Homo sapiens: one gene and its partners. The protein of the gene in region 1 interacts with the protein of each later gene in a biochemical or structural test. Each region holds a gene or a part of one and is shown on either strand. Other genes may lie near its edges. The genes, in order: SIGLEC5, LEP and TLR4.

Evidence for each region.
Region 2: the proteins of SIGLEC5 (region 1) and LEP interact in a biophysical measurement, tested with the Homo sapiens proteins (one study listed by IntAct).
Region 3: the proteins of SIGLEC5 (region 1) and TLR4 form a complex in vitro, tested with the Homo sapiens proteins (one study listed by IntAct).

Annotation. Positions count from the first base shown.
Region 1 is NC_000019.10:51,625,828-51,636,155, reverse strand, and holds the start of SIGLEC5 (sialic acid-binding Ig-like lectin 5 isoform 1 precursor), read left to right. Parts: upstream 1-5,754; 5' UTR 5,755-5,820; coding exon 5,821-5,857; intron 5,858-5,939; coding exon 5,940-6,323; intron 6,324-6,519; coding exon 6,520-6,798; intron 6,799-7,079; coding exon 7,080-7,118; intron 7,119-8,064; coding exon 8,065-8,322; intron 8,323-8,409; coding exon 8,410-8,694; intron 8,695-8,907; coding exon 8,908-9,007; intron 9,008-10,042; coding exon 10,043-10,124; intron 10,125-10,328. UniProt on the Homo sapiens protein: Putative adhesion molecule that mediates sialic-acid dependent binding to cells. Binds equally to alpha-2,3-linked and alpha-2,6-linked sialic acid. The sialic acid recognition site may be masked by cis interactions with sialic acids on the same cell surface.
Region 2 is NC_000007.14:128,249,799-128,259,625, reverse strand, and holds the end of LEP (leptin precursor), read right to left. Parts: intron 7,636-9,827; 5' UTR 7,608-7,635; coding exon 7,464-7,607; intron 5,223-7,463; coding exon 4,863-5,222; 3' UTR 1,997-4,862; downstream 1-1,996. UniProt on the Homo sapiens protein: Key player in the regulation of energy balance and body weight control. Once released into the circulation, has central and peripheral effects by binding LEPR, found in many tissues, which results in the activation of several major signaling pathways.
Region 3 is NC_000009.12:117,713,383-117,723,357, forward strand, and holds part of TLR4 (toll-like receptor 4 isoform A precursor), read left to right. Parts: coding exon 1-1,266; 3' UTR 1,267-9,975.

The DNA of each region.
Region 1 (10,328 bases):
CCAGCACTTTGGGAGGCCAAGGTGGGTGGATCATGAGGTCAGGAGATCGAGACCATCCTGACCAACATGGTAAAACCCCGTCTCTACTAAAAATTCGAAAATTAGCTGGGCGTGGTGGGGTGTGCTTGTAGTCCCAGCTACTCCGGAGGCTGAGGCAGGAGAATCGCTTGAACCTGGGAGGCGGAGGTTGCAGTGAGCCAAAATCACGCCACTGCACTCCAGCCTGGGTGACAGAGCACGACTCTGTCTCAAAAAAAATAATAATAAATAATAAAAATAAACAAATAAATAAATAGTGTTATTTATGTTTTGCTCAGAAATCCTACCTACCTCAAATTCATGGCGATTTCCTGCTATATTATTTTCTAACAGCTCTATTGTTTTCTTTGTCATATTTAGACCTTCAAGCTACCTGTACTTGACTTTTATGCATGAGCTGGGAGTCAAATTTCATTGCAAACTTACTGCAAACTTGATTGCATTAAGTTTTGCCCACAGATATTTTTTGAAAAGTTGGCCGGGCCCAGTGGCTCATGCCTGTAATCCCAACACTTTGGGAGGTTGAGGTGGGAGGACCGCTTGAGCCCAGAAGTTTGAGACCAGCCTGGGCAACATAGTGAGAACCTGTCTCTACAAAAAATTAAAAAATTAGCCAAGCATAATGGTGCATTCCTGTAGTCCCAGCTATTTGGGAGGCTGAGATGAGAGGAGTGCCTGAGCCCAGAGAAATAGAGACTGTGGTGAGCCCTGATCACACCATTGTACTCCATCCTAGGTGACAGAGACACTGTCTCAAAAAAAATTAAATAAATAAAAACCCAAAATAAATAAAAAGAAAAATTTATTATTTGCCACTTCCTCTATCACACTTGATGTTTCCTGTGGTTGAGGTCTATTTCCAGGCACTCAATTTTGTTCCACTTGGTCAATACATAATTGTCACTTTTTTTTTTCAGACAAGGTCTCACTGTGTCACTTTGTCACCTTGGATGGAGTGCAGTGCTGCAATCTTGGCTCACTGCAACCTCCACCTCCTGGGCTCAAGTGATCCTCCCACCTCAGCCTCTCAAGTAGCTGAGACTACAGGCATGAGCCACCCATGCCCAGCTAATTTTTGTGTTTTTTGTACAGATGGGGTGTCACCATGTTGCCCAGGCTGGTCTTGAATTCCTGGGCTCAAGTAATCCTTCTGCCTCGGTCTCCCATAGCGCTGGTATTACAGGTGTGAACCATTGAAATGGGCCTATTTTCTCACATTTTTAAAAATTTGAGACAGTCTCACTCTGTCACCCTGGGTGGAATGCAGTGGCACAATCTTAGCTCACTGCAACCTCCACCTCCTGGGTTCAAGCAATTCTTGTGCCTCAGCCTCCTGAGCAGCTGAGATTACAGGCACATGCCACGATGCCCAGCTAATTTTTGTTATTTTTTAGTAGAGACAGGGTTTCACCATGTTGGTCAGGCTGCTTTCAAACTCCTGACCTTAAGTGATCCATCTGCCTCGGCCTCCTAAAGTGCGGGGATTACAGATGTGAGCCACTGTGCCCCGTCTGAAATGGTCATATTTTCTGTAATGTTATGATACATCTTTTTATCTTGCAAAGCCATTCATTGTTCTTCATGGTTGCCTTGACCATACTTGAACATTTCTACTTCAGTATAAATTTTACAATAGAGTTACCAAATTGCACAAAAATCACCCGGGAGATTGTATGACATATTCCTTTGATGCTGTAGATTGTTGGGTAAAATTGGCATTCATACAATATTGTTCTCAAACTCATCAACATGGCCTCTTTTTCAGTTTATTTACATCTTGATTTATTTATTTTTTATTTATTTATTTTCTTGAGACGGAGTCTTGGTCTGTCGCCCAGGCTGGAGTGCAATAGTGCAATCTCGACTCACTGCAACCTCCATCTCTCAGGTTCAAGTGATTCTCCTGCCTTGGCCTACTGAGTAGCTGGGACTACAGGTGCCTGCCACCACACCCAGCTAATTTTTGTATTTTTAGTAGAGATGGGGTTTCACCAGGTTGGCCAGGGTGGTCTCGAACTCCTGACCTCAGGTGATCCACACGCCTCGGCCTCCCAAAGTGTTGGCATTACAGGCGTGAGCCACTGCGCCCAGCCTATTTACATCTTTAATGTCCTTGAATACAGATTTATAATTTCCTCCATAGAGGTGACATATACATATTTTTGTTAGATACATCTCTAATAGTTAGATATATTCCATATATTCAAAAATTATATCATATTTTTTGATATTGATAAATTATATCATAATTTTTGAAGCTTTTGTCAATGGCATTTTTATAAAATTCCATTTTTATTACTGTGATGTGGAAAGACAACTGATTTTGTAATTTGATTAATCTCTGGCTGTCTTGCAAATATTTTATTAAGGCTTCAAATGTATCCGTATATACTTTTGGATTTTTCTTTTTTTTTTTTTGAGATGGAGTGTCGCTCTGTCGCCCAGGCTGGAGTGCAGTGGTGTGATCTCCACTCACTGCAAGCTCCACCTCCCAGGTTCACACCATTCTCCTGCCTCAGCCTCCCGAGTAGCTGGGACTACAGGCGCCCACCACCACGCCCGGCTAATTTTTTGTATTTTTAGTAGAGATGGGGTTTCACCATGTTAGCCAGGATGGTCTTGATCTCCTGACCTCGTGATCCGCCTGCCTCAGCCTCCCAAAGTGCTGGGATTACAGGCGTGAGCTACCACGCTTAGCCTGGATTTTTCTATATGTGCAGTCATGTCATTGATAAAGACCTCTGTTAAAATTTCATTGTAATTGCTGTACCTTTTGCTTATTTTTATTGCCTTATTATGCTAGGACCTGAAGCTACTTCATTAGGTATATGATGTTTGCTGAAGACACCCTTTATCTTGTTTGGGAAATTCTCTAAAGAGAATTTCTAGTTGGCTATGAATTATATCATAAAGGGATTTGAAATCACCCAATGCTCACTTATTCATCTCTTGAGATTTAATTAGTTAAGGCTGATGTGAAAACAGAAGCCATACTATGTATTTTAGGAGAGGGAATTTAATATTAAGATTTTAATATAAAGATAAAAATACCATTTTCCTACATAATCAAGTCTTTATCTTTAGATCCTACTAGCCGGTATGATGAATTACTTTCACAGTTCAAATGAGGAATAAAGTTCAGAATTTGCAATAAGAAAAAGAAAAAAGAAAAAATTATTCTGACACCTGTTAACATTGACTATTCAGGATGACTGAGACAGGTATCAAGACTAGTGCAGGCCAGGCACAGTGGCTCATGCCTGTAATCCCAACACTTTGGGAGGCAAGGCAGGGAAATGACCTGAGGTCAGGCATTCGAGACCAGCCTGGCCAACATGGTGAAACCCCCATCTTTACTAAAAATACAAAAATAAGCTGGGCATGGTGGCATGCACCTGTACTCCCAGCTACTCAGGAAGCTGAGATAGGAGAATCGCTTGTACCTGGGAGGGGGAGGTTGCAGTGAGCTAAGGTTGCACCACTGTACTCCAGCTGGGACAACACAGTGAGACCCCGTCTCAGAAGAAAAAAACAGAAGTCAATTAAAAAAAAAAAAAGACTAGTGCAATAATGGAGATAGGTCAGGCTCAACTCGGAATACAGCAAAGACCAGGGGGGTTTATGGGCAAGAAGCATAGTGCAGCAGGTGAGGGAGGCTGGCCGTGTGTGTTAGTGGACGGAAAACTACTAAGAGGAGACACTGAAGATACCGGGATTCTTTCTAAACTGACTTAACAGGATTCTTGCTGAAAGCAGGCCAGCATGATCAGATACCAAGGGTGAGGGCTAGGGAATTTGATCAGATAGTGAAGGCGATCAGATATCAAGAGTCTTGCAAAACCAACTTAGCAGGATTCTTGCTACAGCTGGACAAGGCAGTCCCAAGGACAAAGCCTAGTTGAAAAAAGGGTTCAGAGGAGCTTTCATAAGTTTGGTTAAGAAGAGAGTCTTTGTGACTCTTTAGAAAAAAAAATACAAAAATACAAAATTTGGCACACATAGGATGATTTTTGGACTGAGAAAACACATCAAATCACAAAATCTAAAATGTCAAAATATGAGACAACTCAGAAAAATGGCATACTATGTTTGTTAATAGTATAGTCTACCTGTCTGCTACACCTGCATACTTTTTCCCTATATTTTTGACTGATTTTCTTTGATTGCCTTCATAATGGTGATAATTTTTTTCTTTTTGAGACAGAGTCTCACTTGGTCACCCAGGCTGGAGTGCAGTACCGTGATCTTGGCTCACTGCAACCTCTGCCTCCTGGGTTCAAGTGATTCTCCTGCCTCAGCCTCTGGAGTAGCTGGGACTATAGGTGTGCGCCACTATGCCTGGCTAAATTTTTGTACTTTTAGTAGAGAGGAGGTTTCTCCATGTTGGCCAGGCTGGTCTCGAACTCCTGATCTCAGGTGGTCCACCCGCCTCCTCCTCCCAAAGTGCTTGGGATTACAGATGTGAGCCACTGTACCCGGCCAATATTGGAGAATAATTTTATAATACAATTTTTATAGATAGAATAGAAAGAGAAGTCGGTATTTCTTCTGGCATGGGTGGTTGACGTTTGTTTTGATCATTGATAGTTTAAGAAACTGTCTTTATTCTCACAACACATTAATCGGAATGTGAAAAATTTTTAATATATTGTTAAATTTTGGGAAACTATTATGAAATTTCTTTCATAAAAGAGCAGTAACAAGGCAGGTTATTTCCACACATTGCGTGGGCCCCTCCTGGGCATCTGAAAAGTGGATCCTGCAAGGGAGGGCATTGAAGATTGAGCTTCATCAGCCTCACAGTGGCAAATTTGCTTCTGTAGCTCCTTAATAGGATGAGGCTTTAGCAGGGCTTGTGTTTCACTGCCGTCCCACAAGACCCTCAGGTCCATCAAGACCCAAAGTGGACTGTGCTGTGTCCCAAGAATCTTCTTAACATAAGAGTGCTTCAGCTCTCTCATGCTCTGACCCTCCACGAAATTTGGGTCAAAAAAATTTTTTTTCAGCCCTTTTGAACTTTTTTTTTTTTTTTTTTAAGGCAGGGTTTCACTCTGTTGCCCAGGCTGGAATGCCGTAGTGCGATCACGGCTCACAGCAACCTCAAACTCCTGGGCTCAAGGAATTCTCCTATTTCAGTGCCCCGGAGGAGCTGAGACTATAGGTGTGCCACCACACCAGCTAATAGTTTTTATTTTTTGTAGAGATGGTGACTTGCTATGTTGCCCAGGCTGGTCTCAGACTCCTGGGCTCAAACAACCCTCCCACCTCAGCCTCCCGAAGTGCTGGGATTACAGGCATGAGCTACCATGCCTGGTCACTTTGAACATTTAAAATCAAATTTAAAATTATGTATTTCCAGAATGTTTCATGGTTTTTAGGTGGAGGGTGGTTCTGACATCTCACCTCATCACCAGGACAAGCCCTTGTTTCTCTTTTCTTTCTGCATTCAGCCCCCTGAGGATCTCACTCATGACTGAAACATCATTTGAGGGGTGATCACCTCCAGATCCTCAGCTGGACAAGCCTCACATCGTCTGGGGGCCTCAGTATCTTCACCTGCGGCGTCCAGTCGGGGTGGGAGCAGAATGGCTTCCCAGCCCCCGCCTCACCCCAACAGCACGTGATGCCCAAGTTCCCCTTCTGTGCGCGTCCACAGCTCTCACTCACCCTCCGGCTTCCTGTCGGGGCTTTCTCAGCCCCACCCCACGTTTGGACATTTGGAGCATTTCCTTCCCTGACAGCCGGACCTGGGACTGGGCTGGGGCCCTGGCGGATGGAGACATGCTGCCCCTGCTGCTGCTGCCCCTGCTGTGGGGGGGTGAGTGAGCTGAGGGAGGAGGGACAGGCACAGGGGTGAGAAGGGGGGCTGGAGCTGCAGCTGAGCTTCTGTGTCCCCCCAGGGTCCCTGCAGGAGAAGCCAGTGTACGAGCTGCAAGTGCAGAAGTCGGTGACGGTGCAGGAGGGCCTGTGCGTCCTTGTGCCCTGCTCCTTCTCTTACCCCTGGAGATCCTGGTATTCCTCTCCCCCACTCTACGTCTACTGGTTCCGGGACGGGGAGATCCCATACTACGCTGAGGTTGTGGCCACAAACAACCCAGACAGAAGAGTGAAGCCAGAGACCCAGGGCCGATTCCGCCTCCTTGGGGATGTCCAGAAGAAGAACTGCTCCCTGAGCATCGGAGATGCCAGAATGGAGGACACGGGAAGCTATTTCTTCCGCGTGGAGAGAGGAAGGGATGTAAAATATAGCTACCAACAGAATAAGCTGAACTTGGAGGTGACAGGTATGGCAGGGACCCCAGGAGAGGACCCTGGGACGTGGAGACCCCCGTATGAGAACAGGGACAGGAGTTGGGCAGGGGCGGCTGGAGGAGGTGTAGGACTTGGGGCAGGTCGGGGCCTGAGGCCTGGCCACTCTCGGGGTCACACCTTACGTCCTCAAGCCCCTGGGGCCCAGGTATCTCCCTGTCTCCTCCTCAGCCCTGATAGAGAAACCCGACATCCACTTTCTGGAGCCTCTGGAGTCCGGCCGCCCCACAAGGCTGAGCTGCAGCCTTCCAGGATCCTGTGAAGCGGGACCACCTCTCACATTCTCCTGGACGGGGAATGCCCTCAGCCCCCTGGACCCCGAGACCACCCGCTCCTCGGAGCTCACCCTCACCCCCAGGCCCGAGGACCATGGCACCAACCTCACCTGTCAGATGAAACGCCAAGGAGCTCAGGTGACCACGGAGAGAACTGTCCAGCTCAATGTCTCCTGTGAGTGGTGCTGGGGACACAGCTGAGTCCTCAAGGGCAGTGGGAGTGAGGGGTGTGTGTGTGTGTGTGTGTGTGTGTGTGTGTGTAAGGAAGACAGAGAGAAACAAAACAATAACTTGAGAAACCTTGTGTGTGGATCTAAGCCTTGGGATCTGCGGGGAGTGAGACAGGACAGCCTTCCCCGCTTGGTGGGTTTCTGTGGCTCCTCTTTGGGTACCTCCTGGGCCCATGCCCATCTCACTCCTCACTGCTGAAGCCAAGTTTATATCTTTTTATCCCAGATGCTCCACAGACCATCACCATCTTCAGGAACGGCATAGGTAGGAAAGACCTCCTCTCTGAAGCTGGGACCTGCCTCTGGGTCTGTCTCTGAGCAGAGGTAGAGAATCAGAGCTTGAATGCAATCAGATTTGGGAAGAGCAAGAATGAGAATTACTGCCTTCTGGCTTCCACCTTCTGTGAGCCCCATGTGCAGGCACATATGCACACACGCACATACACACGCACACATGCACACACGCACACACACACGCACACACACACATGCATATACACCACACACATACACATGCAATACACCACACACACACGCACATACACACACACATGCACACAGGCACACATGCACACACACCACACACATATGCACACACACACATACACCACACAGGCACATGCACATACACACGCACACATGCACATACACCACACACACATATGCAGATACACCCACACACGCACACATGTACGTACACCCGCACACGCACACACACACGCACACAGGTGCACACTCATGCACTCTGCTCAAAGCAGTGAACAGACTTTAGACCCCACCCATCTCCCATCCCTCCTGTGGTCTGGTTCTTTCCACAGTCACTAAGGACCACTCCATGCCCCTCTCATCTCAGTCAGCCCAGCTCTGTGGTTCTTCTCTCACCCTTCCACTCCTGCATCCTCAGTCTTATTTCCTGTCACATTAGCGGACTGTATTTCCCAACGCCACCGGGGGCTCTCTGTCCTCTCTCCACCACAGTCCAGGCATGTACCAGTGAGATATTGAGCCTCCTCTGGAGACATGAGACTCAGACACTTTTGGTCAGTTTCCTGAGTGTGCAAAGGCCCAGCCTTTGAACCAGGATGCAATCAAGCCAGCATAGGCCAGGGGAGGAGAGGGAGATGTCATCTGGATCCTGGGAAGGAGGGAAGGATAGGGACTGTCAGCCTCCCTGGCCCCATCTCTCTTTCCCCACCCTTCTCTCCCCAAAGCCCTAGAGATCCTGCAAAACACCTCATACCTTCCGGTCCTGGAGGGCCAGGCTCTGCGGCTGCTCTGTGATGCTCCCAGCAACCCCCCTGCACACCTGAGCTGGTTCCAGGGCTCCCCTGCCCTGAACGCCACCCCCATCTCCAATACCGGGATCTTGGAGCTTCGTCGAGTAAGGTCTGCAGAAGAAGGAGGCTTCACCTGCCGCGCTCAGCACCCGCTGGGCTTCCTGCAAATTTTTCTGAATCTCTCAGTTTACTGTGAGTGTGGGGGCAGCTGGAGCAGGAACTGCATGGTATTAAAGAAGGAAGAGGCCCCCTGCTGAGTTCTGTCCTCCCTCCCCACAGCCCTCCCACAGTTGCTGGGCCCCTCCTGCTCCTGGGAGGCTGAGGGTCTGCACTGCAGATGCTCCTTTCGAGCCCGGCCGGCCCCCTCCCTGTGCTGGCGGCTTGAGGAGAAGCCGCTGGAGGGGAACAGCAGCCAGGGCTCATTCAAGGTCAACTCCAGCTCAGCTGGGCCCTGGGCCAACAGCTCCCTGATCCTCCACGGGGGGCTCAGCTCCGACCTCAAAGTCAGCTGCAAGGCCTGGAACATCTATGGGTCCCAGAGCGGCTCTGTCCTGCTGCTGCAAGGTCAGGGGGCGTATTGCAGAGGGCAGGGGCCTGAGGGGAGGGGCATGGATCCCAGAGTGATGGATGGTGGGAGAGAGAGGCTGGACTGGTGGTGGGGAGACAGGGTTCTTCATCTCCTGTCTGAGCAGGGCCCTGGAGCAAGTTGCCCAGCAGGTGGGAGGACAAGAGTCTGAGTCCTGGGAGTGAGTTATTGCACGCCCCTCTTTTCTGCAGGGAGATCGAACCTCGGGACAGGAGTGGTTCCTGCAGCCCTTGGTGGTGCTGGTGTCATGGCCCTGCTCTGTATCTGTCTGTGCCTCATCTTCTTTTTAATGTAAGTCTTGGTCCCAGGGAAGGTACAGGGTGGTGTTTGTAGGGAGTAGGAGAGACTGAATCTCAGAAACACAGAGCTAAGGCCAGAGGTGGTGATGTGTGCTTGTGGTTCCAGATGCTCAGGAGTCTGAGGCAGGAGGATCACTTGATCATGGAGGTTGAGGCTGCAGTGAGCCAGGATTGTGCCAATGCACTCCATCCTGGGCCTCAGAGTGAGAGACCCTGTCTTAAAAGAAAAACAAAACAAAACAAAAAGCAGAACTGAGTAGATCCAGAGAGGTCTTCTTTCTTTTTTTCTTTTCTAATAGCTTTATTGAGATACATGTTTTGTACAATTCATCCACTGAAAGTGTACGAGTCAATGGCTTTAAGTATATTGACAGAGTTATGCATCTGTCACCAAAATCAATTTTAGAACATTTTCATCAGCCTAAAGTGAAAAACGAAGACATAAAGAAACCTTGCACCCCTTAGCTATCACTCCTGCTTCTTTCCCCCAGCCCTAACCTATTCCATGTCTCTGTGGATTTGTCTGTCCTGAAGTTGCAGTTGTACTTTGTGTGAATGGAATCACGCGATATGTGGTCCTTTGTGGCTGGCTTCTTTCACTCGGCCTAATGTTTTCAAGATTCATCTATGTTGTAGCATGCATCGATACTTCATTCCTTTTTGTTTTCAAATAATATTCCATTATATAAATGGAACGCATTTGATTTGTGGGTTCAGCTGTTGACGGGTACTTGGGTTGCCTCTGCTTCTTGGCTATGATGCATAACACTGCTATGACCATTCCTGCCATGGTTTTGTGTGTAAGAGGGGGTCTATATGATGGAAATTCAGTCCATGGCCACCCTGACCAAATCCCTGGTTATCCAGGAGGATGGAGCCCTCACTCCGAAGTCAGGAAGGTCTCCGAGTTTAGTTCCGGGGCCTGGATGGCTTCATTGTCATTTTCACCATCTTAGCATGGGATGGGACAACCCGCTAACCCGTGCCTGGGTGGTCCCAGCTGCACTGTGCTGGTTTCTTTCCTTAGAGTGAAAGCCCGCAGGAAGCAAGCAGCTGGGAGACCAGAGAAAATGGATGATGAAGACCCCATTATGGGTACCATCACCTCGGTGAGTGGTTTGGGGATCTTCTCATGTGCATGTCCACTCGGAAAGTCCAGGCTGAGCTCTTCAGCATTCCACCAAACCCACTCCTCCCTCATCACCTGGGAGTTCTCTTCTCTCCTGTTCTCCCCCTTCATATCCCAGAGCCAGGAAATCATTATGTCCCATTCAACCTTCTTTGTTTTGTTTGTTTGTTTGTTTGTTTTTGAG
Region 2 (9,827 bases), on another chromosome or scaffold:
GTTACAAATGGTCTAAAGGCTTCTCTGCCTACACAGTGTTATTTAATATGGAGGAACAGCTGCACAGCAGGAATACCACGATGCCCCCTTGGGTGGGGGGAGTTGGCTTCTGTGGGACACCTGAGGCCCAGCAGGACTGGGGCAGAGCTTGAGGCCCTGATGTCTGCTGCTTTGGCTTTTTCCTGTGAGCTTCAGGACATGCCTCTCCCTGCCCCTTGCAGCTGGTTCTTACCATTCCTTCCTTGTTTGATTTGCTAAATCCCTGTCTTAGTTCACTGTTTCACACCCGCACTGACAGTCTGCTGTCCCCCCAAGGCCCTGGGACATCTGCCAGGCAGTGAAATCAAATGTGCTCTTTAAATACAGCTCAGCTCCACGTCATATTCTCCTTCTCCCTCTTCTCTCCCCACCTCCTCTCCTTCCTTCCCAGGAATGCAACATTGCCCAGGCAGGGGACGGGCCAGGCTGAACTGGACATTTCCAAAAAGTGTTTCTTCTGGAAATTTCACCCAAAAGGAAAGGGTCTGGTATAATGGACTCCCATGTATCTGTCACTTAGCTTTAGCAATTCTCAACATTTTGCTGATCTTGTTGATATATATATATAGATATATAGTTATTTATATAAAGTTTATATAATATTTATAAAAAATTATAAGATAAATTGTTTTGCTGAAGTTTTTTAAGGTTAATCCCAGGCATTGTGCTATTTCACCCTAAACTTCTGTTTGCATCTATCACGAATGCATAAGGAAGCACTGAAGAATAACTACACCACCATGCCATCATTATACCTAGTAAAATTAACTAGAATTTCTTATCAGCATCTGAAATGGAATTGGGACACATGTTCTCAGGAACTTCTGAGGTTGTGTCACTGGCAAAAAAGTTAGAAAGAAAGAAAGAAAGAAAGAAAGAAAGAAAGAAAGAAAGAAAGAAAGAAAGAAAGAAAGAAAGAAAACAGAGCCCCCATTTAAATTTTCCTCATCTCAAAGTTATCTTTTATACAGTTGATTTGGACCTCTATTTGAACTCAGAATGGTTTGTTGAACAAATTAAGATTAAGCGGAATACTAATAAGGAGTCTAACCTTTGATAGGTATGTTTTAAGCTTTTTGAATAATTTGCTTACATGTTAAATAATGGGCTTGCTATCCAAGAATCTCAATTTTTTTTTTTTTTTTTTGAGACAGAGTCTCACCTGCCACCCAGGCTGGAGTGCAGTGGCATGATCTCGGTTCACTGCCACCTCTGCCTCCCGAGTTCAAGCGATTCTCCTGCCTCAGCCTGCCAAGTAGCTGGGATTACACGCACGTGCCACCATGCCTGGCTACTTTTTGTATTTTCAGTAGAGATGGGGTTTTGCTATGTTGGCCAGGCTTGTCTCGAACTCTTGGTCTCAAGTGATCCACCCACCTTGACCTTCCAAAGTGCTGGGATTATAGGCATGAGCCATCGTGCCTGGCCCAAGAATCTCAATTCTTCTGGCCACCAAATCAGAATGGAGGGGTACATTGTGCTGGGCATTGTGCCAAATTAGTTGCATCATGAGGTGATGCTGAACTCTTTATTTCTTCTCTCTTCATTCCCCTCATCCCTCTTTCCCTGTGGATCCTGTCCTTCTTCCATCCCAGTGGATGCCTCTTTCTGTCCTTGCTCTGTCCCGTGTTAAGGGGCCTCTCCAAAGTGGATCCCTTCTTCCCGAGGACCCCTCTCTTTGTCCTCATTCCTTGGGATGGCACAGAGGCCTCTCTCTGGCTCTTGGTGTGTGCTTCCTGTGCCTCCCTGCAACCTGTTTCCCAGTCCTCTCAGCGTCCAAACCCAGCTCTGTTTTCTTTACAGGGTAATCCTTTTGCCTGAATAACTGGCGGCTGGCTGTGGCCAAGCCTGGGGCGGAGCTGACCCCAGTGATGGATGGGGGCCAGCCAGGCCTTGCCCTGTCACACACAAACAGCTCTCCCGAAGCCCCTCCAGGAACGGCGACAGGAAACAAAGAGCAGGGGGCAAAGTTATTTTATTTAGATTTTTTTAAAAACAAACTTTTTTTTTTTTTTTTTTAAGACGGAATCTCGCTCTGTCATCAGGCCGGAGTGCAGTGGCGCGATCTTGGCTCACTGTACTCTCCGCCTCCCAGGTTTAAGCGATTCTCCTGTCTCAGCCTCCCGAGTGGCTGGGACTACAGGCGCCCGCCACCACGCTCAGCTAACTTTTGTGTTTTTAGTAGAGACGGGGTTTCACCATGTTGGCCAGGATGCTCGCCATCTAGTGACCTTGTGATCCCCCCACCTTGGCCTCCCAAAGTGCTGGGATTACAGGCGTGAGCCACCGCACCCGGCCAAACTTTTTTTTTTTTTTTTAAGTTACAAAAACAGACAACCATTTATACTTAGGAAGTTTCACACTCTGGGAATTAGCCATTGTGCCAGGTTTTGTGAGCAAAAGGCTTAAGACACCTCAGCCTGATTAGGTGGTTGTGAGGATCTGGGTCACATTTTCCAGAGCAGCTCTCACCCTGGCCACAGCACCAGCCTCTTCTCTAGAACTTGCTACTCTTAACTCCTTTAATATCAAACTTCTTTACCCTTCAAGGTCCCTTCAGCATGGCCCTTGCCCTCCTGTCTCTTCTTTCTCTGCCTCTCGCTGTAACTCACTGCTCACACTTTTACCTCTGCATCTCCACACACCAAACCTTCCAACAAAACAGGCTTCTCTCTGCAGGCAATTCACATCCCTCACCTCCTTCAAACTCTACCTCGAAACTCCTCTTTTCCAGAAAGCGCTCGGTCTCCCTGGTTCCAGTCCCTCATTACCTGGCTCACGTAATGCTCTGGGTATCAGAGGACCTGGGCTATAGTCCTGGTCCTGCCACCTGTTGGCTGTTATGGTCTTATGTATTTTCTTATTTTTAAATTCTCAGTTATCTTGTTTCAAAGGGATGTGGCTATAATAGAAGCTAAGATGCCCTGAAAAGTAAACATGTTACAAAGTGCAAGCAGGGTTCCCTGTGGGCCCCTGGGCACGGCCCCCCTCAGCTCATACCATTTCCCACCTGCTGTCAACTGCACCATGCATTTGGCTGTTCAGCTGCTGTGGTAAATACCCCACCTTGGCACATGGGTGAGTGCGGTTTGACCACTGGGAATGCAAGATCCCTGAGGGCAGGCCTCAATCTTAATGTTTATTGGGTGAGCTTCTCCAGCCTATAGCACCAGTCAGGGCTGAGCATGAAGCAGGTGCTCAGTCTTAAAGTTAACTGCTTTGATTCAAGTTTCCTTGGACAGATCCACCACCCACTGTGTGATAGCAAAAACACAGCAGCAGGATGGTGGCAGACCCCAAACCTCCTCTTTCATCTTCCTGAATGTGACCTCCAGTGGGAAGGGCCATCCTGGTGGCCTGGCCTGGGGAGTCCTGGCACTCGCCTAGCAGTGCTTGTCAGGTCTCAGGACCACCTGCTAAAGGAGTTTTCTTCACCACTGGAGTAAAAACCCCCCAAGATTTTTGGTAATTTTGGCCTTGCTTGGGTGAGCCAATCAGACAAGAACTACAATTTGGCATGCAAGCCCCAAATAGGAACACTGCCATGTAATAAACCCAGAGTGTGATCAACCCTGGACCATTCAGAGGGTCACACCAAGGACCCCTGCTCTGAAGATCGCAGTCACCAGTGTGGGACCGTCACTCCATGATAGGAAAGACCACTCCCTAGCAGTCGGAGAAAGCCAGAGCTTACCACTGCCCCAACAAATGGCTTTCAGCCCTTTGCGTTTTATTCTGGATGGATTTGAAGCAAAGCATCAGCTTCTCCAGGCTCTTTGGGGTCAGCCAGGGCCAGAAACTTCTCTCCAGGGGGTGCCTGGCCAGGCCTCACAACCCCCCTGAAAGAGCTATTTTCATGAAAAACATCCTAAGCAATTGCAGAAGATAAGAAAATGATCTCACTCCTTCCAAAGAACCCACCACACAAATGTTATTCAGAAAACACATTCTAGATCCTTCTCCCTTCTGCCCAAACATTCCCCACCCCTGGGTGCAGACACCTACATATGACACTTGACAAAACAAATCTTTTTAAAATAACCTGGTCCTTGGAGATCCACTCAGGGCAACACCATTGCAAACACTGTGATGTAACATCAGTCACAGTAGAAATGAAACCAGTTACGAGAGAACTAACTGGAGAGCCACCTTTGCCAGCTCTTGCTCAGATGAACCCAACCCTCGAGTCACTCAAAATGGGTTCAGCTCAGCCAGACCCATCTATGGGATTGGAAACTGCACTCCAGGGAGACCCCTGGCCCTGGCTGACCCCAAAGAGCCTGGAGAAGCTGGTGCTTTGCTTCAAATCCATCCAGAATAAAATGCAGAATAAATAAACATGTGCTTCCAGCTTGTGTTGCTGGGAGTTCCTGCGTGTGTGGATGTGGTCTTCATGGAACTCCTTGGAATTCTCAGAGGGAACCTTGTTCTGGTCATCCAAAGGCTCTGCCTACCCCTCTGCCCTCTCTGAAATCACCCCTGGTCACATTGAGGCATTCAGTGAGGGGGAGATGGGTCAAGAGGGGACAAGACAACTCTTGTTGATGGCTGAAGACCTTGGTGGGAATCCCAGATGCAGCCCACTCTTTGCTGGGTGGACCCCCTTCCTGGTGAGAATAGGATCCTGTGTATATATCTTTGGTTTCAAGCAAAAGGAGGCTTAGGGTCTTATGCCTTTGGAAGAGTGGCTTAGAGGAGTCAGGGAAATTGACAGAGTCCTGGATAAGGGGTGTCCATGCAATGCTCTTCAATCCTGGAGATACCTGGAAGCCAGAGTTCCTTCCCTTAACGTAGTCCTTGCAGGAAGAGTGACCTTCAAGGCCTCAGCACCCAGGGCTGAGGTCCAGCTGCCACAGCATGTCCTGCAGAGACCCCTGCAGCCTGCTCAGGGCCACCACCTCTGTGGAGTAGCCTGAAGCTTCCAGGACACCCCCCAGGCTGTCCAAGGTCTCCAGGCCACTGGCCCAGGGCAAGTGGCAGCTCTTAGAGAAGGCCAGCACGTGAAGAAGATCCCGGAGGTTCTCCAGGTCGTTGGATATTTGGATCACGTTTCTGGAAGGCATACTGGTGAGGATCTGTTGGTAGACTGCCAGTGTCTGGTCCATCTTGGATAAGGTCAGGATGGGGTGGAGCCCAGGAATGAAGTCCAAACCGGTGACTTTCTGTTTGGAGGAGACTGACTGCTATGCAGGAGGAAGAGGGAGAACAAGTGCTCAGCATGTGGGAGGAATCGCTCTCAGAGCCCTCTGCCTTCCCCGTGGGCATGGAGGGTCATTCTCTGGGCTGCCTCCTTCCACCCTCCCTCACCACTTTGGCTCAGGCCCTTGTATCCTGCACCCAGGTGACTGCCAAGCCTCTAAGCTGGTCTCCGAGATTCCTGCTTTTCCCACACCATCCTTCCCTCCACTTCCAGGCCAACTTTCCTAGGTCATTCCTTTCTCTACATGGCCTCTGCTGAAGAACCAGCCATGGTTTCATATGTTTTATTTAGTGGAGTCTGTTCCCCAGGCATCTGAGGTCCTCCATAAGCACCCCCACCCCCAGCCTTCCCTAGTCCCTTCTACCCCCAGCCGAGTCCTCCCTCCCAGTCAGCTTTTCCAGGCAGTCCCTCCTCCTTAGAGATCAAGGCCGTACCCTCAGTGAGGCCCCCCAACCCTGCTCCAGTGACTCCAGTTCCGGGAGGCTCTCCCCATCCATCTGCCCACAGCACTGAGGCTGACACCTCCGTGGTTACTACCCGGGGCTCCCGTGATATTGTGTATTACACCACCCAAGGTGGGGCACTCGGGATCTATCACGTGCAGTCTTGCTGAGTGGCTAATATGCCCAGCTAATTTTTTTTTATTATTTTTAAAGGAGACAAGAGTTTTTATCTATAAAATGCCCAAGACTCTATCTAGTTCTGAGCCATCTTTGCTTCCAGACACCTAACTTCTCCCTAACTGCCCAAGACTACCATAAGACACCCACAATGACCAGGAGACGTGGAAGTCTCCAGAGAGCTCCATGCAGGGGGTAAGGAGGATTCAATTGCTTTAGCTAATTTAGGCCTCATAACAACCTTGTGAATAGTGTGTGATATCCCCATTATCCAGATGATGAAAACAAGGCTTAAAGACAGTAAGGAACTTGCTGAAGATCTCACAGACATCAGAAGTGTGAAGATTCAAACTTAATCTTCCTAATTTCAAATACAGACCTCATCAGGAAAATGGCTGAAGGTCTAGGCCTGCTGGACCCCAGAGAAAAGACCAGGGTGGGCACTGACTGCTATTTGCAAATCAGTAGAGGGTTGAATGTGAAAAAGGGTAGACTCGCTCTTTTGGGTATCTTTGAGCGGCAGGGCCAGAGATCAGCTGGAACTACAAGAACCCTAATGACAAGCACATCTAGAGATGGGATAGAGGCCCTGAGGAGATGCTTCTGGGGGTCTTGTTCCTGCCAATGGGACACAAGGAACTTCACAGCTCCCTCTGGTCGTAGGCACTAAGATTCAAGGAAGTGAAGTCAGGGAGGAAGGCGAGCGCAGAAGGTGGGGACAGAGGGGACAGGAAGGAAAGAGACAGTGGCTGTGCCTGCATGTGGCTCAGCTAATCGCTGAGGCCTGGGTTTCCCCTTGGTAGGTTGAAAATAAGCACGTGAGGCCTCATGAGAATCCTATGATTTTTTTCTTATCTTTAATTTTTATTTTTTTAAAAATTAGAGAGAGAGGTCTTGCCATGTTGCCCAGGCTGGTCTTGAACTCCTGGCCTCAACTGATCCTCCTACCTTGGCCTCCTAAAGCAATGGGCTTACAGATGTGACCCATCATGCCTGATCAAATCCTATGACTTTTATTTATTTATTTATTTATTTTGAGACAAGGTCTCACTCTGTCACCCAGGCTGGAGCACGGTGGCATGATCAGGGCCCACTGCAGCCTCAACCTCCCAGGCTCAGGTGATCCTTCCATCTCAGCCTCCCCTAGCTGGGACCACAGGTACACACCACCATGCCCAGCTAACATTTTTTATTATTTTTGTAGAGATGGGGTCTCCCTATGCTGCCCAGGCTGGTCTCGAACTCTTGGGCTCGAATGATCCTCCTGCTTTGGCCTCCCAAAGTGCTGGGATGACAGGTACAAGCCACCACACCCAGCCCAAATCCTATGATTTTTAAATGGAAACATGTAGCAAAATCAAATGTTCTTGGAGTGGTTTAGAATTAGAACCACTAACCCCTGGAATCTCAGCAGGCAGAGGGGCCAAAAGAAACAACCAGAAAGAGTGGAGCCCTGTGCTTTCAAATCCTTCTCAGCTTCCAGTAGGTGCCTGGCATTCAGGAGGCGTTCAATAAATGTTTCTTGGACTATCTGGGTCCAGTGCCACTAGGAGCCAGTGCTGGGCTGGCTGCAGTTCTACTTTGTCCCCGCATACTCTCCTTACCGTGTGTGAAATGTCATTGATCCTGGTGACAATTGTCTTGATGAGGGTTTTGGTGTCATCTTGGACTTTTTGGATGGGCACAGCTTGGACATAGAAAAGATAGGGCCAAAGCCACAAGAATCCGCACAGGGTTCCCCAATGCATTTTCCTTCCCAGGATGGGCTTCTTGGGCCTGAAAACAGAAGGAACCACACACTGCAAGGAGCCGGTATCTCAGAATACACCCATCTTCACATTACCAACCACATTACCAGACGGGGATGAAAATCAGCTTTGCTTTCTGCTCTGGCTACCATCCCCTCAAAGTCAAAGACAATTCATGATCTACATATGTATTAATGAAATGCATCCCCTTAGAAAGAGGATTATTGTCTGGTCAATAAAACCACCATGAGGTATCCTGTAGACCACAGAGCTGTGAGGCCAGGGTGTGATCAAATGGACATGGTAGGGATGATGTAGACTTCATTGCATGCTCGAGGGAAAGATAACAGACTTTTAAGGTCTGGTTTGAACCCAGTCATTTACTCACTGCATAATTTTAAACATATCACATAACCACAAAATACTCCACCTTCATCCCTGTAATATATCTATCTCTAGGCTTTTATGAGGATCAAATTATCTGATGCACGTGAAAGGGCTTAAAGGTGTTGTGAAATGTGCTCTATCATTACCCTATCATTAGCGATTATGCTACTCACCCATCCTCTGCATTTCTCCCTCACACCAGCCTGCTGATACTCTGTGAGGGCCTTTACCACTTGCTTCCTTACGTCCTTTCTCTCCCACCCACTGGGAGCCTGAATCCCACTAGCACTTACTGACCTTCTAAATAATATGTCAGACGCAGTGCTCAGCACCGAGGATGCAATGGTGAACAACAGATGCTCTCTACCCTCGAGTGGCTTACAGTTTAATAGGAGAAACAAACAGGTCAATGGGCCATTCTAAGCCAGGAGGAAAGAGCTTTGCAAAAAGGGCAGGTACAAGATACTACTGGAAGGCACAGGGGGCTCCCTGGAAGAAGTGTCTCCTGAGCTGGGGATTGGACTAAATATGGGCTACTAAGAGTAGAAAGTGGTTGCCATAGTGGCTGAGAAATCAGGGGGTATAAAGACATGGTGGCGGGAGAGAGCATAACACATTCACCCAGAACGCTTGAAACTTTCAAAGTCTTGGAACTGTGAATTCTAAAATTAAAATAATATGCAGATCCTTGATTAAGCAGCAAAATTTTAATGAGATACATGAGGCAAAAGGTAATAAAGTTAAATGTATGCGAGTCTGTGGCCAATGATCCATGCTAAGTATATGTGCATGAGCCTGAAATAATAATAAAATGTAAGTAAATATTAGGATGACGGTTCTGGAGATGGCAGTAAAATTAATCTCCGCTTTTCGTGTTCTTCCTCGTCTGGGTCTTGATGAAGACAGGTAATACATTTTCTGTCCATAGATGGCAATATTAGTAGGATTCATTTCTGGCAATACAATAAAAACAAGCAGTCTGTCTATATATTATTTATAATGTTTGATCAAAGCCATGTTTTTTTAATCTGAATTTCACAGAAGAGAAAAATATGGGGCTCAGGAATAGGAGTCAACTTGCCCAAAGTCAAACAGGTCCATGACAGAGTCAGGATTCAGATCCAGAAAGCAGGAGTGCGAGCCACCCACCCCTCCAGCTCCTCAAGGATTTAAGGAAAAGCCCAAATCACACCCCAATTCCCAGTCAAGGGCAGCTGCTGGGAACATGGCATTTGGAAACAAATACCCTGCTCTGGAATAAAGCTATGGTATTGTACCCACATCTCAACTTCAAACATGAAAAGTACTATGTACCAAGTAATTTGGGAAAAGGCAAATTTATGTCTTAAAAAAGTAAAACTTCCTCTATTAGCTACTTGTTACCTGAATAATACACCAAATGTTTGTGCAACAGAGTTAAATACTGCTAATCCCCGATACGAAGTCATGAAACCCTAGCAGAGATGGGCGGGTGTAGTGATTAGGCTCTGCGGCTCCAGCTGCAGGCTCCACTCTTGTTAGCTTTGTGTCTCCTGGCAAGATGCTTCCTTAAAGCATCCTTTCCTTTCCTCCTACCCAAGAGAATTTATTACCAGATTAACTGTGGTCATAGTCACTCTCAAATAATGGCCACCCTCTAATACCTAAGTGGAAAAACAGTTTTACAAGCCCCCTCTATCACCACTGATAATATGCTTCAGTGGATGCTGGAAATAAATTGTGGTTCCTTGAAAACATGGAGCTGAGAAGCTGCCGCTGAGTAAGGCTGCCTAATAGGAGAGGCCAGGTTTAGGAGAAACCTATGGGGGTCTGCAGAGAGAACTGGTAGCAGGT
Region 3 (9,975 bases), on another chromosome or scaffold:
TTGGGCTTAGAACAACTAGAACATCTGGATTTCCAGCATTCCAATTTGAAACAAATGAGTGAGTTTTCAGTATTCCTATCACTCAGAAACCTCATTTACCTTGACATTTCTCATACTCACACCAGAGTTGCTTTCAATGGCATCTTCAATGGCTTGTCCAGTCTCGAAGTCTTGAAAATGGCTGGCAATTCTTTCCAGGAAAACTTCCTTCCAGATATCTTCACAGAGCTGAGAAACTTGACCTTCCTGGACCTCTCTCAGTGTCAACTGGAGCAGTTGTCTCCAACAGCATTTAACTCACTCTCCAGTCTTCAGGTACTAAATATGAGCCACAACAACTTCTTTTCATTGGATACGTTTCCTTATAAGTGTCTGAACTCCCTCCAGGTTCTTGATTACAGTCTCAATCACATAATGACTTCCAAAAAACAGGAACTACAGCATTTTCCAAGTAGTCTAGCTTTCTTAAATCTTACTCAGAATGACTTTGCTTGTACTTGTGAACACCAGAGTTTCCTGCAATGGATCAAGGACCAGAGGCAGCTCTTGGTGGAAGTTGAACGAATGGAATGTGCAACACCTTCAGATAAGCAGGGCATGCCTGTGCTGAGTTTGAATATCACCTGTCAGATGAATAAGACCATCATTGGTGTGTCGGTCCTCAGTGTGCTTGTAGTATCTGTTGTAGCAGTTCTGGTCTATAAGTTCTATTTTCACCTGATGCTTCTTGCTGGCTGCATAAAGTATGGTAGAGGTGAAAACATCTATGATGCCTTTGTTATCTACTCAAGCCAGGATGAGGACTGGGTAAGGAATGAGCTAGTAAAGAATTTAGAAGAAGGGGTGCCTCCATTTCAGCTCTGCCTTCACTACAGAGACTTTATTCCCGGTGTGGCCATTGCTGCCAACATCATCCATGAAGGTTTCCATAAAAGCCGAAAGGTGATTGTTGTGGTGTCCCAGCACTTCATCCAGAGCCGCTGGTGTATCTTTGAATATGAGATTGCTCAGACCTGGCAGTTTCTGAGCAGTCGTGCTGGTATCATCTTCATTGTCCTGCAGAAGGTGGAGAAGACCCTGCTCAGGCAGCAGGTGGAGCTGTACCGCCTTCTCAGCAGGAACACTTACCTGGAGTGGGAGGACAGTGTCCTGGGGCGGCACATCTTCTGGAGACGACTCAGAAAAGCCCTGCTGGATGGTAAATCATGGAATCCAGAAGGAACAGTGGGTACAGGATGCAATTGGCAGGAAGCAACATCTATCTGAAGAGGAAAAATAAAAACCTCCTGAGGCATTTCTTGCCCAGCTGGGTCCAACACTTGTTCAGTTAATAAGTATTAAATGCTGCCACATGTCAGGCCTTATGCTAAGGGTGAGTAATTCCATGGTGCACTAGATATGCAGGGCTGCTAATCTCAAGGAGCTTCCAGTGCAGAGGGAATAAATGCTAGACTAAAATACAGAGTCTTCCAGGTGGGCATTTCAACCAACTCAGTCAAGGAACCCATGACAAAGAAAGTCATTTCAACTCTTACCTCATCAAGTTGAATAAAGACAGAGAAAACAGAAAGAGACATTGTTCTTTTCCTGAGTCTTTTGAATGGAAATTGTATTATGTTATAGCCATCATAAAACCATTTTGGTAGTTTTGACTGAACTGGGTGTTCACTTTTTCCTTTTTGATTGAATACAATTTAAATTCTACTTGATGACTGCAGTCGTCAAGGGGCTCCTGATGCAAGATGCCCCTTCCATTTTAAGTCTGTCTCCTTACAGAGGTTAAAGTCTAGTGGCTAATTCCTAAGGAAACCTGATTAACACATGCTCACAACCATCCTGGTCATTCTCGAGCATGTTCTATTTTTTAACTAATCACCCCTGATATATTTTTATTTTTATATATCCAGTTTTCATTTTTTTACGTCTTGCCTATAAGCTAATATCATAAATAAGGTTGTTTAAGACGTGCTTCAAATATCCATATTAACCACTATTTTTCAAGGAAGTATGGAAAAGTACACTCTGTCACTTTGTCACTCGATGTCATTCCAAAGTTATTGCCTACTAAGTAATGACTGTCATGAAAGCAGCATTGAAATAATTTGTTTAAAGGGGGCACTCTTTTAAACGGGAAGAAAATTTCCGCTTCCTGGTCTTATCATGGACAATTTGGGCTAGAGGCAGGAAGGAAGTGGGATGACCTCAGGAGGTCACCTTTTCTTGATTCCAGAAACATATGGGCTGATAAACCCGGGGTGACCTCATGAAATGAGTTGCAGCAGAAGTTTATTTTTTTCAGAACAAGTGATGTTTGATGGACCTCTGAATCTCTTTAGGGAGACACAGATGGCTGGGATCCCTCCCCTGTACCCTTCTCACTGCCAGGAGAACTACGTGTGAAGGTATTCAAGGCAGGGAGTATACATTGCTGTTTCCTGTTGGGCAATGCTCCTTGACCACATTTTGGGAAGAGTGGATGTTATCATTGAGAAAACAATGTGTCTGGAATTAATGGGGTTCTTATAAAGAAGGTTCCCAGAAAAGAATGTTCATCCAGCCTCCTCAGAAACAGAACATTCAAGAAAAGGACAATCAGGATGTCATCAGGGAAATGAAAATAAAAACCACAATGAGATATCACCTTATACCAGGTAGAATGGCTACTATAAAAAAATGAAGTGTCATCAAGGATATAGAGAAATTGGAACCCTTCTTCACTGCTGGAGGGAATGGAAAATGGTGTAGCCGTTATGAAAAACAGTACGGAGGTTTCTCAAAAATTAAAAATAGAACTGCTATATGATCCAGCAATCTCACTTCTGTATATATACCCAAAATAATTGAAATCAGAATTTCAAGAAAATATTTACACTCCCATGTTCATTGTGGCACTCTTCACAATCACTGTTTCCAAAGTTATGGAAACAACCCAAATTTCCATTGAAAAATAAATGGACAAAGAAAATGTGCATATACGTACAATGGGATATTATTCAGCCTAAAAAAAGGGGGAATCCTGTTATTTATGACAACATGAATAAACCCGGAGGCCATTATGCTATGTAAAATGAGCAAGTAACAGAAAGACAAATACTGCCTGATTTCATTTATATGAGGTTCTAAAATAGTCAAACTCATAGAAGCAGAGAATAGAACAGTGGTTCCTAGGGAAAAGGAGGAAGGGAGAAATGAGGAAATAGGGAGTTGTCTAATTGGTATAAAATTATAGTATGCAAGATGAATTAGCTCTAAAGATCAGCTGTATAGCAGAGTTCGTATAATGAACAATACTGTATTATGCACTTAACATTTTGTTAAGAGGGTACCTCTCATGTTAAGTGTTCTTACCATATACATATACACAAGGAAGCTTTTGGAGGTGATGGATATATTTATTACCTTGATTGTGGTGATGGTTTGACAGGTATGTGACTATGTCTAAACTCATCAAATTGTATACATTAAATATATGCAGTTTTATAATATCAATTATGTCTGAATGAAGCTATAAAAAAGAAAAGACAACAAAATTCAGTTGTCAAAACTGGAAATATGACCACAGTCAGAAGTGTTTGTTACTGAGTGTTTCAGAGTGTGTTTGGTTTGAGCAGGTCTAGGGTGATTGAACATCCCTGGGTGTGTTTCCATGTCTCATGTACTAGTGAAAGTAGATGTGTGCATTTGTGCACATATCCCTATGTATCCCTATCAGGGCTGTGTGTATTTGAAAGTGTGTGTGTCCGCATGATCATATCTGTATAGAAGAGAGTGTGATTATATTTCTTGAAGAATACATCCATTTGAAATGGATGTCTATGGCTGTTTGAGATGAGTTCTCTACTCTTGTGCTTGTACAGTAGTCTCCCCTTATCCCTTATGCTTGGTGGATACGTTCTTAGACCCCAAGTGGATCTCTGAGACCGCAGATGGTACCAAACCTCATATATGCAATATTTTTTCCTATACATAAATACCTAAGATAAAGTTCATCTTCTGAATTAGGCACAGTAAGAGATTAACAATAACTAACAATAAAATTGAATAGTTATAATAATATATTGTAATAAAAGTTATGTGAATGTGATCTCTTTCTTTCTCTCTCTCAAAATATCTTACTGTACTGTACTCACCTATTTTCAGACCATAACTGACCATGAAACCTGGGAAAGTGAAACTGTGGATAAGTGAGGAACTAACATACATACATGATTGTTTATCTACAGATGTATGCCTCAGTTTCTTAGTATGCTTGAAAATGTATGATTTTGTGTATATCCGTGCTACATGTAAGTGTGGTTCTATTCATATTTGAATATGAATTCTGCATAAGTGTGTTTATTCAAGCAAATGTACAAGGCTCTGAGAAGGAAGATCAACATACAACTTGGAATATTTCAAGGCCGAAATATTCAAGGCTGACATTGGCCTCCTTCCTATCAGTTCCCTCTCCCAGATGGAAATTCTAGAAATGGCAGGTGAGGTGGACAAGCAGGGAAAGAAATTATATGCATAGAACAGAAGGAGAAGAAAGAGTAAAGTCAGGCCTCAGCCAGCCTCTTTTTAGCTCTTTAAATCCTCTGGATTTAAGAGGGATAAAGGGTGGAATAAGGATAAATTAATGCCAATTGTAATGCCTTAAATTTGTGTGATACCTTACAACTTGAAACATATTCACAAAACTATATATTTGAATATCTCATTAGCTGAGTAAGGTAGCAAATCATAATTAACTTTTTCCATTTTATTGATGGGAAAGCTGAAGTTCAATGAAGTAAATTTTTCAATAGCCCACAGAGTAGGAAAGTGACAAAACCTGAGCCTGGGCCTCCAGGTCACTCAAGGACACTTTCTTTCTTCCACACCCAATTGCTTCATGCTTAAAGTTGGCAAAACAGGAAGTGAAACTCCTGCAGTTTTCTGTGTGGTTGACACTAGCAAGGGTTTCTCAGTTGAAGCCATGAATCATTAAGCCAATACATATGCATATATGTTATACATACCAAATGATTTATTTATAACCCTATCTTTCCATAAAGGACTTGAAGGAGCTTCAAACAAAGGATATGTGAACAATAGGGTTAATCAATAATAAGTAGAAAATCTGGACATAGAATAAAAAGAGGAGAGAAAGACACCGAGAATGAGCGTTAATACAGTGCTTTCCATTTTTCTGGTGTTTTGAGTAGCGTGGCTTTTGGAGAAAGCCAAAACTCAAATTCACTCCTTATCAACTGTGTGCCTTGGGCTCCATTTCTCTGAGAGTCTACTTAGCTCCAATGTAAAATAAGAATAGAACTATGACTTTGTAAGGTTGCTCTAAGGATTGAAAATCATGTATTATGTTCAATACGGGGACACTGTCCTTATGGGTGAGTACTCCCCTAAGACTTTATTAAGAGGGCACTAGGAGAAGCACTGGGAGGTCTTCTCAGTAACAACACTAAAGTAATTGCTATTTTTCCAGCCTGTGGAACCACAGAAGTGACTGTAACTAAAATTAGACATTTCTTTCTGATTCATTCTCTACTCACGGGATTGTCAGACCCCAGTCTTCTTCTGGACTCTATAAACTTTTTAGAAATCATCAGCAGGCTCCTGGAGAAGCTTAAATGAACTCACACAATATGTGACAGTGAACTCCCTGGGAGAGTGAAAACCAAAGTCTAAGCCAGTGTCTCCATTTACTTGTGTGATTGTGGGCAAGTCATTCAAGTGCTTTGAGGCTCAGGTCTTAATTCATGAAATGGAGGTAATAATACCTTGTTGGCAGACCTCACTTGGTTAAAATGATAATGTTGATAGTTACAATAGTTACATTTAATTGATCAATTGTTTTATGCAAGGGCTTTATTTGTGCTATCTCAGTTTGTCACATCAATGAATTAGAAAGATACGAAAGTATTTCCAATTTACAAATGAGGAGTCTGAGTCTGGGAGTCATTCTGTCATGTGTCCACTGTCACCTGCTCATTGGTGGCAGCACTGAGATTAGGATCTAAGTCCACTTCACCGCAGAAGCAGGGCTTCTAAATACTGTTCTATGGCAAGAGCACCCTGCTCTCACAAAATGCATAAAACTTCCTATCTCACCATTATAATTTTGACTGATATTAAACAAAGAGAAGTATTATTATTATTACTTGTTTTTATTTATATTACAGCTGTAAGAGCCAGGAAAAATGTGATCTAAGTTATGTGATCAAAGATTTTTTAACAGTGAACAAATCAGGCCCACTAGATGATGGCCTTTCTTTGAACAACATGCCTAGGGTTGCTCTATCATGTCTACAGTTGGTCTGACTTCCTGACGGGCATCACAGACTTGTGATTAAACACAGAGGTTATGGGGGAAGTTCCAAAAGCTTAGGACTTTCCAGATGGTTGGAATAAGATCACACACTCTGGCTGCCCTTATGGAGATCACCGAACTTTTCAACTCAAAGTAAAATCTGTGGAGTAAATGGTCGATCAAAAGGAACCAACTATATTGAGCACCATGCGTGATCATCTGATCGTTACTGCTACCTTGTGAGTTAAAGGCTACTCTTCTCATTTTAGAAATGAGAAAAGAGATGCCCAGAGAGGACGAGTAACTTGCCTTAGGTCACACAGCTTATATTAATCACAATAACATTTGCCGCACCTTCTGTATTTTTTTTAAGTTGCTAAGCTTTTGGTGCATGTCTGGCACCGTTTTAGTTGTATATTATTTCATTTAATTGTTAAAATGACCTTCTGATGCAGGTATTTGTAGCTTTGCCATTCCACAGATGAAGAAACAGATGAAAGGACTGAATTGTTCAATAGGAAGGAGCAGAATCAGGATATGAACTTGGGTTGGCCTGATTCTTGGGGCTGCATTCTTTCCATAACATAATTGCTTGCTGTGATGTCCTGGGCTACTCTGCCAGGGGTGGTTAGTGGAGTGAATGGAGAATAATTTAGACAAGGTCAGTAACTCCCATGCCATCTAGAAATTAAAAGTTTAAAAGGCAGAGTCTGCAACTCTCCTTGATTTCTACAGAAATAAAGATGATCCCTCCTGTGACAGTGCTAAGTGACAATTCTGAGTGTAAATGCGCTTTTTGGCACAAATTGTCCTGTCCTAATAGTCTTGATTATAATTATAAAATAATGGGTTTCTGAAAGGCTGCAAGCAGTTCTGGGAATGGCAATAAAGGTTTAGAAATGACGTGATGTTTATGAGAGAAGTGTTTTGTTGAAAATTAAACTCACGTTTAGGAGAAAGGATTGTGTTGTATGCTCCTAGGAAACTATCTCACTATGTAATTAAATCAAAACCAGCCAGTTACCAATTTGAGCTCTTGACTCATACTAACAACACCCCATTTCCCATGGGCCAAGCAAGGCAGGACTGACCTGAAATAACCCAGCCTGACTCTATCCACAGCCACCCCAGGACCTTGCCCCTCCGTCTTCCTAGGGCTCGGCCGTGAGATGCTAGTGCATGACCCTTCCTCTTCCTGGGACTGTCCTTGTCTTTCCCTTTGGACTCTGGGAGGTCTGTTCTCCTCCTCAGAAAGGAATAAACACTCTTTCTATTTGTGGGATTCCCTAGGAGACACTATATAAAAATATAGAGTTAAAAAAACTATTTAAAAAAAAGACAACTTCATGTCTCTACTCTGACTTCATTCTTTTTAAGATGGGTAACAAAGACTCTCTTCAAGGTTAGAAAATTTTATTTTAATTTTTATAGATTTAGAGAGTGCAAATGCAGTTTTGTTACATGAATATATTGCATAATGGTTTAGTCTGGGCTGTTAGCGTAACCATCAACTGAACAGTGTACTTTGTACCTATTAGGTACTTTCTCATCCCTTAACCCCTTCCCACCTTTCTGAGTCCTCAATGTCTGTTATTTCATTCTCCATGTCCATGTCTACAAATTATTTAGTTTCCACTCATAAGTGAGAGCATGGATGGAACTGGAGAAGAGTATTTTCTATCCCAAGATCGGTTCCTTGATCTTGTGTCTCCAAATCACTTGCTCTCTCTCTTACATCTTTTCTATCTTCTTCTAGCCTCTTTTTGCAAACTTCATTTTGACAAAGAATTCCAGGCAGTCTACAGCTGATTTTATTTCAATACAACGATTAAAATGGAAACCATATATGAAGATGACAAAGTTGAGCAGGTCCCAAACTCTCACTTTTAAACAAATGCTTGGCTTAAGAATCACTTAATGACTTTCATTCTGCTATCTATGTGTCTGTGTATCTAGGTACTAATTATCTATCTTTATGATCTTTATTGCTAGAAATTCTGGTTCAATATCAGAGGTTAGTCCTAAGGAATTTATATTTTAAAATATTCTCCCAGTTTTCGTGCACAGACAGATTTGGGAATTACTGTTATAATGGAAAATGGAGAATAACCACCCACATTTAATATGGTTATTGGTTTTGTTCTTGAGATTTATTGCTAAGATTCATGATAGCCCAGGCAAGGTCAGATAATGTATTTTTATTTTACACTGTATAGTTGATTCTTCTCAATCCCACTAGATCAGACTCTTTGGGATACTAGGATTGGCCTATTTGATGGTGAGCTCACTACATCCATTTAGATGTTGTGTCCATGCAATCATTTTAGTTCTCCTAGTTTCTACCTATCACGTTGTCATTTTCCCTTCTTTATCATCCTGGGTAGCTGAGACCCCACATAAATATATACCAGAAAAATGTTGTGGTCTTTTCTAAACTCTCTGAGGCATCTGTTGTCAATGTGATGTTGTTTTTTGTTTCCAGTCCAAAATATATCAAAGTAAAATTTAACTCCACTTTTGCTAAGTATTCATCTTGCCTTGAGTACTAAGATTCCAAAAATGACTTTCCCCTCTGAAAAACACAGGATTTCCTTGCGAAAACTTGCTGGGCCACTGCCAATCTTCCCAGAAACTCCTTTTTCCTTATCGTTGAGGGGAATTGGGGAAGTGATCACTGACGGTTGAAATTCAGTAGTTTTGGTCTTTAAGCTGAGACCCTGAGTCTTCTGAGGAGTCTACTGCTCCCCAGTGGGAAACACCTGCTGTCAAAATTTTCCTGCTTGCAAAGAGCACTTTTGAAATTAATGGCAGGGGATGAATATCTGGCTAGTGCTGTGCTCAGCTGAGTTATTAATAGGGCCTTCTGAGTCCTCTCTACACATCATCTTTGGCTGAATTAGCTGTGGTTTCAGCACCTGAGAGTCTAGCACCACTAAAGGCAGGGAATACCTTTGCCAGTTTCTGGCATATTAACAGCTGAGATCAGATAAGTGAACAGCGATAGAGGTAGTGAGGTTTAGGATTCAGGTCTGCCACCGGGAGCGCACCTCTGGGCTCAGGTCTCTCATTTGTAAAATGGGACATTTAGGTCAGATCAGCATTTTCAAAAGTGTGACATGTTAGTAAATAAGATGATTTTATGTGGTTGACAGATGAATGTATTACCTTTAGTGGTTATATGTTTATTTTCATGGTTACTTTTATTTATAATAAATTTTGTGACTAGCTAAGAATCAATTATCTCTTTAAAATATATTTAAGTTTAAAATGTGGGCCAACTTAGGAAAAAAACGGGATGAAATGAATTATATAAAAGGTATGCAGATTTGGAAAAATTTTGAAGGTGTCACAAGAAAGATTGGCAGTCAGAAAGGAATGAACCAAACGGCTGCTGAGGGTCAGGCCAGCTCTCTGACATTCTAGCATGTTCACATCTCCAGGGCTGTTTCCTTACCTATAAATTGTGGCAATTGGAGTAAATGTCCATTCCAGGAATTCTATTCTATGATTAGAGGTGTAACTTCATCATCCAGATTTTCCAGCATCCTTAACATGTGGTTTTAGCGTTCTAAACCTGATGATGCTATATCAAAACGGGAGACTCATTCGTCAAGTCATGATGTATCCATGTATTTATAATATTTCCCATGTTCCCTCATTTCTGAAAAGGATTAAGCTATCAACCC